Linked DNA regions of Homo sapiens: regions 2 and 3 are each linked to region 1. Evidence: fine-mapped expression QTL. A gene starts in region 1. Each other region holds a variant in brackets. All regions are shown on one strand. Distances are from middle to middle.

Region 1 (2,757 bases):
GTAATTCTTTCAGGAATTTTGTCATTTTGGATTTGCTTGTCTCATAAAACAATGTGTAGTTGCTTAAAAATCAACTATTCTATTTGGTTGACTTGGTCTAAAGTATTTCTCATGTTGTCTCGTCATTCTTTTGACTGTTCCTTTTTTTTTTTTTTGCCTTGGCCAGATAGGACAAAATTCCTTTTCACTGCAGTATTGGGAGCCTGGAACTAGAGTTACCAACCCCTCTGCGTTAAAGAAGGAGCTGTCCTGAGGCTTCCATCTCTACTGGGCTTGAGGCAAGAACATTGTTAGGGACGGCCTGCTCTTGGCCTCTGTGCCCCAGGGATTGCAAATGCATGTTCCTCAAAGGTAAGGGCTGTATCATTCGGCTTTCTTTGTATTCACAGGTACAGCTTGTGCTAGGCAGCCGGTGTTCAATAAATATCGTGCCTAAGGATAAAGTGGCATTGTCCTTAATTTCCCCCACCAAACCACTAGGTGTCGCCTTCATCTCAGGGAAACCATGCCCGTCCTCGCCCTATACACTCCCACCCCACTCCAGGGCTCCAGGAGCGCTCTTAGCTTGTGATTTCTGGAGAAATAGCTTGAAGGGGGGAGAGAAACCGTGGCTCTTAGCGCGGGCAGAGAATGGGCTTATGTGCATGTCCTTTATGACAGTTGGAGAAAAATCCCCAAGGTCCCATAGCAGTCCCTCTCAGCCACCATGAGATCATCCCTCACAAGCTGTTCTTGGGGTCAGATTGGCACTCCAGATATGAGGGCCCTAGGGAGAGCTTCCTAAGGGAAGCTGGGAGCAAGGTGGAACCCCAGGAGAGCGTGGATGGGCTTCCACTGCGGGGAGTGTCCCGCCGGTCCGTTACAGGCTTTCCCCAGGCGCCAGCCTGCGCTGTGCAGGAGACAAAAGAAAATCGAGGCCCTGACTGAGCAGATGGTGCGGAGGAAGCCGGGCGGGCTGCGGTGGGCCTCTGAGGACACGAGGAGGGCAGGGGGCATGGAGACAGCGGGGGGCCGAGAGTTGAGTCCCAAGCAAGAAGGAGCCTCGTGGACTTTCTAAGGACTGGTGGGAAGTGTACAGCAGGGGCCCCTGGCTGCTGGAGGGGCCCGTCCAGGGAGCGGGCATGGTCCGCGGTGGAGTAAGCCGCACTGCCGTCGGGAGGGCGCTATGGTTTGCTAGGTGAGGGGGCTGGTGAGGATACCACACGTCTGGGGATCCTCGACTGCTTCCTGGAGACTGGAACCACTGAGGGACTCAGGGAGTTCAGAGGGGAGACCCAAGAAGAACGGGCTGAGCGAGGGGGAGAGGACAAACCCTGGGGTCGCTGGCGTGTGTGAGATGGAAATGGAAGGAGGGGCGGCAGGGGGACCAGGGGCGTGGGGGAGACCAGGGTAGGCCCTGAGAGTGAGGGAGCGCCCGGGAACCCTGCTGGCCGGCGAGGCCTTGGTGCGGAGCCCCCAAGTGCTCACCGGGGTGGGTTTGGGACCTGGCGGTCCCGAGCGCCCGGGTGGGGGGTGGGGGAAGGCAGCCGGCGCCGGAGGGTGGGGCCGGGAGGGAGGAGGAGAGGCAGCGGGGGAGGGGCGGGGGCGGGCGGCCTGCCCGGGGGAGTCGCACTCGGCCGCCGGCGCAGCGAGCGGAGACGGGCCGGGCCGAGGCGACCTGACCCGGACGAGCGGCGCGCGCGGGGCCCAGGCGGGGGGCGGGAGGAAGCGCCGGGCAGCGCCGGCCGCCAGGGCCCAGGAGAAGCGGAGCAGAGAGGAGCGGGGACACGGGCGGGGCCGCCGTAGCTCCGGATGGGACCAGCGCCCGGGCCCGTTAGTCCAAGCAGGAGCTCCGGGAGAATCCTTCACAGGGAGATTTACCCCTGCCTTCCCCTGCCCTCCGGCCCAGGCCTCGCTTCGCTCCCCGCCTGCCCATGATCCCAGTCCTTCCGCGGCGCGGGCACCCTCCCACCTTACCCCCTTGGTCCTATGTGGCGCAGCGCCCTCCTGCCCTCCCGGCCCTTTCAGCTGTGAGGTTCCCCCAGGCCGTTTCTTTGTACCACCCGCCCCCCACCCCCACCCCATCCCAGTCCCAGATCCCCTTTTCCTTCTCAGCTTTAGATTTATCAGGCTTCTTCACCTCGCACTGTCCCCATCCTGGCCGCAGGCCCCCTCGGTCCCTCCCTCCCCCTGCCACCCCGTTCTCAGTCCTCAGTCCTTGCCCTAGGCTGGTAGCCCACTCCTTGCCCGCCCCCCGCCTTCCTCCCATCTCCCCCTCCTCTCCCCGGCCCCCAGCACCTTCTGCATCCCAGCCTACCTAGCCTACTCCTCCTCTTCCTGGCCCTCTTCCCCAGGCTCCAGGCTGGGGGGTGCTCGCGTCTCCCCTGTAGGCCAGAGCAGCCCCAAGTTCTGGGGGCGGTGGGGCTGCTGCTTTATCCCCATGGCGCTGCCATCACTTCTGCTGTTGGTGGCAGCCCTGGCAGGTGGGGTGCGTCCTCCCGGGGCGCGGAACCTGACGCTGGCGGTGGTGCTGCCAGAACACAACCTGAGCTATGCCTGGGCCTGGCCACGGGTGGGACCCGCTGTGGCACTAGCTGTGGAGGCTCTGGGCCGGGCACTGCCCGTGGACCTGCGGTTTGTCAGCTCCGAACTGGAAGGCGCCTGCTCTGAGTACCTGGCACCGCTGAGCGCTGTGGACCTCAAGCTGTACCATGACCCCGACCTGCTGTTAGGTCCCGGTTGCGTGTACCCTGCTGCCTCTGTGGCCCGCTTTGCCTC
Region 2 (2,757 bases), 98 kb before region 1:
ATATCTTTTTAAAAGTTAATGCGAATATTATCTAAAATTCTCCAAAACCCCTCCCTAATCCCTGTCCCCCCACCTTTTTTGAGACGGGAGCTTGCTAGATTGCCCAGGCTGGTCTTGAACTTATGGGCTTAAGTGATCCTCCCGACTCAGCCTCCTGAGTAGCTGGGATTACAGGCGTGCGGGCACCCTGCCTGTTTTGAGGAGAAAAAAAAAATCCACATTTCTTAATATGGTATAGAAGGCCCGTTGTTTTGGCTGTTGCCTGCCTCTCTGGCCTCATCTCCTTCCATGCCCAACCTCACCCCCAGTATTCATACTTGTACCTCATGCTGCATTCATAATGAGCTACGTGCAGGAGCTGGAAATAGCCATACTTTTCTTAAAGCTTCCACAGTTTATGCATTCTGTTCTCTCTCCCTAAAATGCCCATCCCCTTGGCTGATTCCTGGTGGCCTTTAAGACTCAGTAAGTGTCAGCTTTTCTGGGAAGCCTTCCCTGGCCACTTCTCTTCCCACCGCCTCACCTAATAGGTGCGTGTTCTTGGTGCGGGCTCTCACCCTCATCCTAGTCCCATGGTATAACTGTTCTTATACCGGTTTGGCGCCTCCGCCGGTCTGTGAGTCCTCAACAGAAACGACTGTTCTCAATTCTGAATCCCCAAGGCCTATCACAGCACCAGGCATAGAGTTGGCACTTCATGAACATTTGCCAGATGAGTTTTTTATGTACCAGTTTCTGGGTACTTATCAAATATACTAATACGGTGTGGGTCTTTTGGTCTTAGAACCCATTACACTCTTAAAAAGTATTGAAGACCCCCAAACAGCTTTTTTGTTGAAGTGGGTTATATCTACCAATAGTTGCCATATTAAAATGAAACTTGAGAAAAATTTTAAATATGTATCAATTCGTTAAAAATAACAAAAATAAACTCATTACACATTAATCATGTTAACATAATGTTCTAAATGAAAGATAACTATATTCCCATTCCCCGAATTAATGAGAGTATGGAAATTATTTTACATTTTTACGAATCTCTTTACTCTCTGGCTTCCAAGGGGACAGCTGTATTATCAATATCTCCTTCCATATTTGATCTGTTGCTATATGTTGGTTACTGAGACATATGAAGAAAATCCTGTCTCACAACAGATATGCAGTTGGAAAGATTTATTTATTATTTTATTTATTTATTTTGAAACAGTCTTGCTCTGTTGCCCAGGCTGGAGTGCGGTGGTGCGATCTTGGCTCACTGCAACCTCCGCTTCCCAGGTTCAAGCAATTCTCCTGTCTCAGCCTCCTGAGTAGCTGGGACTACAGGCATGCACCACCATGCCTGACTAATTTTTGTATTTTCAGTAGAGACAGGGTTTCACCATGTTGGCCAGGCTGGTCTCGAACTCCTGACCTCAAGTGATCCGCCTGCCTTGGCCTCCCAAAGTGCTGGGCTTACAGGCGTGAACCACCA[C/T]GCCTGGCCTATTTATTATTATTATTATTTGTTTATTTTTTTGAGACAGAGTCTCGCGCTGTCACCCAGGCTGGAGTGCAGTGGGGCGATCTCAGCTAACTGCAACCTCCGCCTCCCAGGTTCAAGTGATTCTCCCGCCTCAGCCTCCCGAGTAGCTGGGACTACAGGCATAAGCCATCACACCCAGCTAACTGTTGTATTTTTTGTTTGTTTGTTTTGTTTTTTTGAGACGGAGTCTCGCTCTGTTGCCCAGGCTGGAGTGCAGTGGCACAATCTCGGCTCACTGCAACCTCCGCCTCCCAGGTTCACGCCATTCTCCTGCCTCAGCCTCCCAAGTAGCTGGAACTATAGGCGCCCGCCACCATGCCCAGATAACTTTTTATATTTTTAGTAGAGACGGGGTTTCACTGTGTTAGCTAGGCTGGTCTTGAACTCCTGAACTCAGATAATCTGCCTGCCTTGGCCTCCCAAAGTGCTGGGATTACAGGCGTGAGCCACCATGCCGGGCCTGGCATATTTATGTTTTTTTGAGACAAGGTCTGGCTCTGTCACCCAGGCTGTAGTGCAGAGACACAATCACGGCTTGGCTCACTGCAGCCTTGACCTTCTGGGCTCAAGTGCTCTCTCCGCCTCAGTCTCCTCCAGTAGCTGGGACTACACATGTGCACCATCATACCCGGCCCTTTTTTTTTTTTTTTTAAATAGAGATGGTGTGCCACTATGTTGCCTAGGTTGGTCTCAAACTCCTAGGCTCAAGCTACCCTCCTGCCTCAGCCTCCCAAAGTGCTGGAATTACAGGCCTGAGCCACTGTGCCTGGCCGATAATTGGCAGTTTCTTAAGGGGCAGTTGCAATGTAGAATGTGAAACCATATCAGTGACCTTTTTGTACTGTTAAACTAAAATCCGTTGTTTTGGCCAAGTGTGGTGGCTCACGCCTGTAATCCCAGCACTTTGTGACGCCAAGGTGGGTGGATCACCTGAGGTCAGGAGTTCGAGACCAGCCTGGCCAACATGGTGAAACCCTCCCGTCTCTACTAAAACTACAAAAATTAGTCAGGTGTGGTGGTGGCACACGCCTGTAATCCCAGCCACTCGGGAGGCTGAGGCAGGGGAATCACTTGAACCTGCGAGGCGAAGGTTGCAGTTAGCCGAGATTGCACCACTGCACTCCAGCTTGGGTGACAGAGCAAGACTCTGTCTCAAAAAAAAAAAAAAAATCCGTTTTTCTGAACTGCACCTGATTGGATCTTTTACCCATGCATAATTTTGTAACACCGTGCATTCG
Region 3 (2,757 bases), 740 kb after region 1:
CATTTTAATCTTAATCAGCCAGCATCTTTGACTACAACTAAAATAGTTTTGAATTGAAAAGGAAAAGGGGGGCGGAGGTTGTTGATCTCCTAATAGTGGTGACCTTTTGTTTGATTTTTGAAGACTGAGTAGAATAAGGTCACCAAGCAAAGATGTGAGAGAGGACTTTGCAGGAAAGGATAATGAGTACAGAGAAAATTTCGTGATCAAAGTTATGGAAACATTAAAGAGTCTGGTGCACCAGGGAAGTGCCTGGCTGTTGTATTCAGGGTATGTATTGAAATGTGGTAGGAAAAGAGCCTGTTGGGCCATAGGCATGGATCCAGATCAGTGCTAGCTATATTTGTCTTCAAAACAGAGGTTGTTTTTATCATGTTCTCCACTGGTTTCCTAGCGCTTGGAACAGTGTCTGGCTAAGGGAAAGGAATGAAAGACATTTTACACTATGTTTAATAAATTTGCATGTTCCCCTGTAAGTGATAGGGGATTTGGTTCTTCAGCCATTCCCTTTCTTCTGTGAGTTAGCTCATATCATTTTTTCTTAAGTTAAACATGACCGCTTTCTGTTGCTTGCAACCAAAGAACCCTACCTGATTCAGTTGGCACAGTTCATCCCCTTACAGGAGATACATCCCCTGTTAAGGGAGTATCTCTTTTTTTTTGAGACGGAGTTTCACTCTTGTTGCCCAGGCTGGAGTGCAATGGCATGATCTCGGCTCACTGCAACCTCCGCCTCTTAGGTTCAAGCGATTCTCCTGCCTCAGCCTCCCTAGTAGCTGGGATTACAGGCAACCGCCACCATGCCCAGCTAATTTTTTATATTTTTTTTAGTAGAGACGGGGTTTCACTATGTTGGCCAGGCTGGTCTTGAACTCCTGACCGCAGGTGATCCACCCTCCTTGGCCTCCCAAAGTGCTAGGATTACAGGCGTGAGCCACCGTGCCTGGCCAGGAGTATCTCTTACATGAAGAATATCAAGGACATTCAAAGTGCTTTTAGTAGTGGGCCACAAATTCAGAAATCCCTGGGTGTGCAGCCACTGGCATTTAAACTAATGGCAAGTCAAGAGGGTTAGTATGCGTAGTAGATGGAAGTCAAGTGTATGTATTTAAGTCAAGTGTATGCAACATATGAATGAGCAGAAACATTAAACGTAACCTTTAGGAAAAGACAACAGGCAAGTGCAAACAAAAAGAAAGC[G/A]GACTATGCATTATTCATATCACAAAATAAATTCAAGGAAAGCAAAATCTATTTAGATATTTACTAAAAGGAGAGCACTACGTAACAGAGCTTATGGGAACGGGCCAAATCTCCACTTACAAGAAGATTAACAACCTTAAATTTCTTTATTGTAGAACTAAGAATGAAAATACCTGAACTGAGCAGTCAGTTCAAGAAAAATGACAAAAAGAAGAGAGCAGACTGAATGAGAATTTGGCCACAGTCCATTTCATAGGTGTGGGACAGGGAAAGGAAAAAGGGCCTCTCAAATGCACAAATAACATGATCAGAGAGGTGCAAGTACAACCAAGGGAGCTCAGTTTCACAGAACCAAGGGGAACAGAGTTTTTTGGTGTTTTTGTTTCAGACAGTGTCTTGCTATGTTGCCCACACTGGTCTTGAACTCTTGGCCTCAAGCGATCCTCCTACCTCAGCCTCCCAAAGTGATGGTGCTGGGATTACAGGTGTGAGCCACCATGCCAGGCCATGGGAAATGGAGGTTTTTTTGTTTTTGTTTTTGTTTTTTTTGAAACAGAGTTTCACTCTTGTTGTCCAGGCTGGAGTGCAATGGCGCAATCTCAGCTCACCGCAACCTCCGCCTCCCGGGTTCAAGTGATTCTCCTGCCTCAGCCTCCCGAGTAGCTGGGATTACAGGCATGTGCCACCATGCCCAGCTAATTTTGTATTTTTAGCAGAGACAGGGTTTCTCCATGTTGGCCAGGCTGGTCTCGAACTCCCAACCTCAGGTGATCTGCCCGCCTCGGCCTCCCAAAGTGCTGGGATTACAGGCGTGAGCCACCGAGCCCGGCCTGTTTTTGTTTTTGAGACAGGGTCTCACTCGTACCCAGGCTGGAGTGCAGTGGCATGATCTCAGCTCACTGCAACCTCCGGCTCCTGGGCTCAGGGATCCTCCTACCTCAACCCCCCAAGTAGCTGGGACTACAGGTGCAAGCCACCACACCTGGCTAATGTTTGTATTTTTGGTTGAGACAGGGTTTTGTCATGTTGCCCAGGCTGGTCTTGAACTTCTGAGCTCAAGCAATCTACCCACCTCGTCCTCCCAAATTGCTAGGATTATAGGCGTGAGCCACCCATCCAGGCCAGGAAATGGAGTTTTAATGAATAAGTGAGGAGCTGCAGAAGGGAGGGAGTAATCAACAGGGTCAAACAAAAAATGAGATCCGATAAGAAAATGTCTTAAATTTCTACAGAGCTTGGCAATTACCAGTAAGAGATCAGCAGGATTTATTCTGAGCTTTCCATAGAAAGAAAATACTTTGGCAGAATTAAAGGGAAGGACACTAGAATTGTGGTCATTTCTCATGTTTGCCATCCAAAGTCTCCTTAGACCTCTTACGCTACGTGTACTCCAATTTTTCCGGGGAAGAGACATCCTTTTTTTTTTTTTTTTTTTGAGACAGTCTTGCTCTGTCGCCAAGGCTGGAGTGCAGTGGTACAATCTCGGCTTATCACAACATCTGCCTCCCAAGTTCAAGTGATTCTCCTGCCTCAGCCTCTCAGATAGCTGGGACTACA

The links. PIP is the estimated chance that this variant, and not a neighbour inherited with it, causes the effect.
Region 2: its variant is the best candidate, but not a certain one, in a credible set for the expression of NPR2 in spleen (GTEx, PIP 0.58).
Region 3: its variant is the best candidate, but not a certain one, in a credible set for the expression of NPR2 in lymphoblastoid cells (GTEx, PIP 0.77).

What each region holds. Positions count from the first base shown.
Region 1 is chr9:35,789,990-35,792,746 of GRCh38, forward strand. It overlaps NPR2 (natriuretic peptide receptor 2), which reads left to right and starts at 1,602. Exons shown (of 22, transcript NM_003995.4): 1 at 1,602-2,757. The coding sequence starts at 2,420. It also overlaps a transcript of RGP1 not described here.
Region 2 is chr9:35,691,636-35,694,392 of GRCh38, forward strand. No RefSeq gene overlaps it. Among named protein-coding and RNA genes, the nearest start is that of TPM2, 3.1 kb to the left of the region's middle. The variant C/T (reference allele first, on the strand shown) is at 1,472.
Region 3 is chr9:36,525,735-36,528,491 of GRCh38, forward strand. No RefSeq gene overlaps it. Among named protein-coding and RNA genes, the nearest start is that of MELK, 46 kb to the right of the region's middle. The variant G/A (reference allele first, on the strand shown) is at 1,201.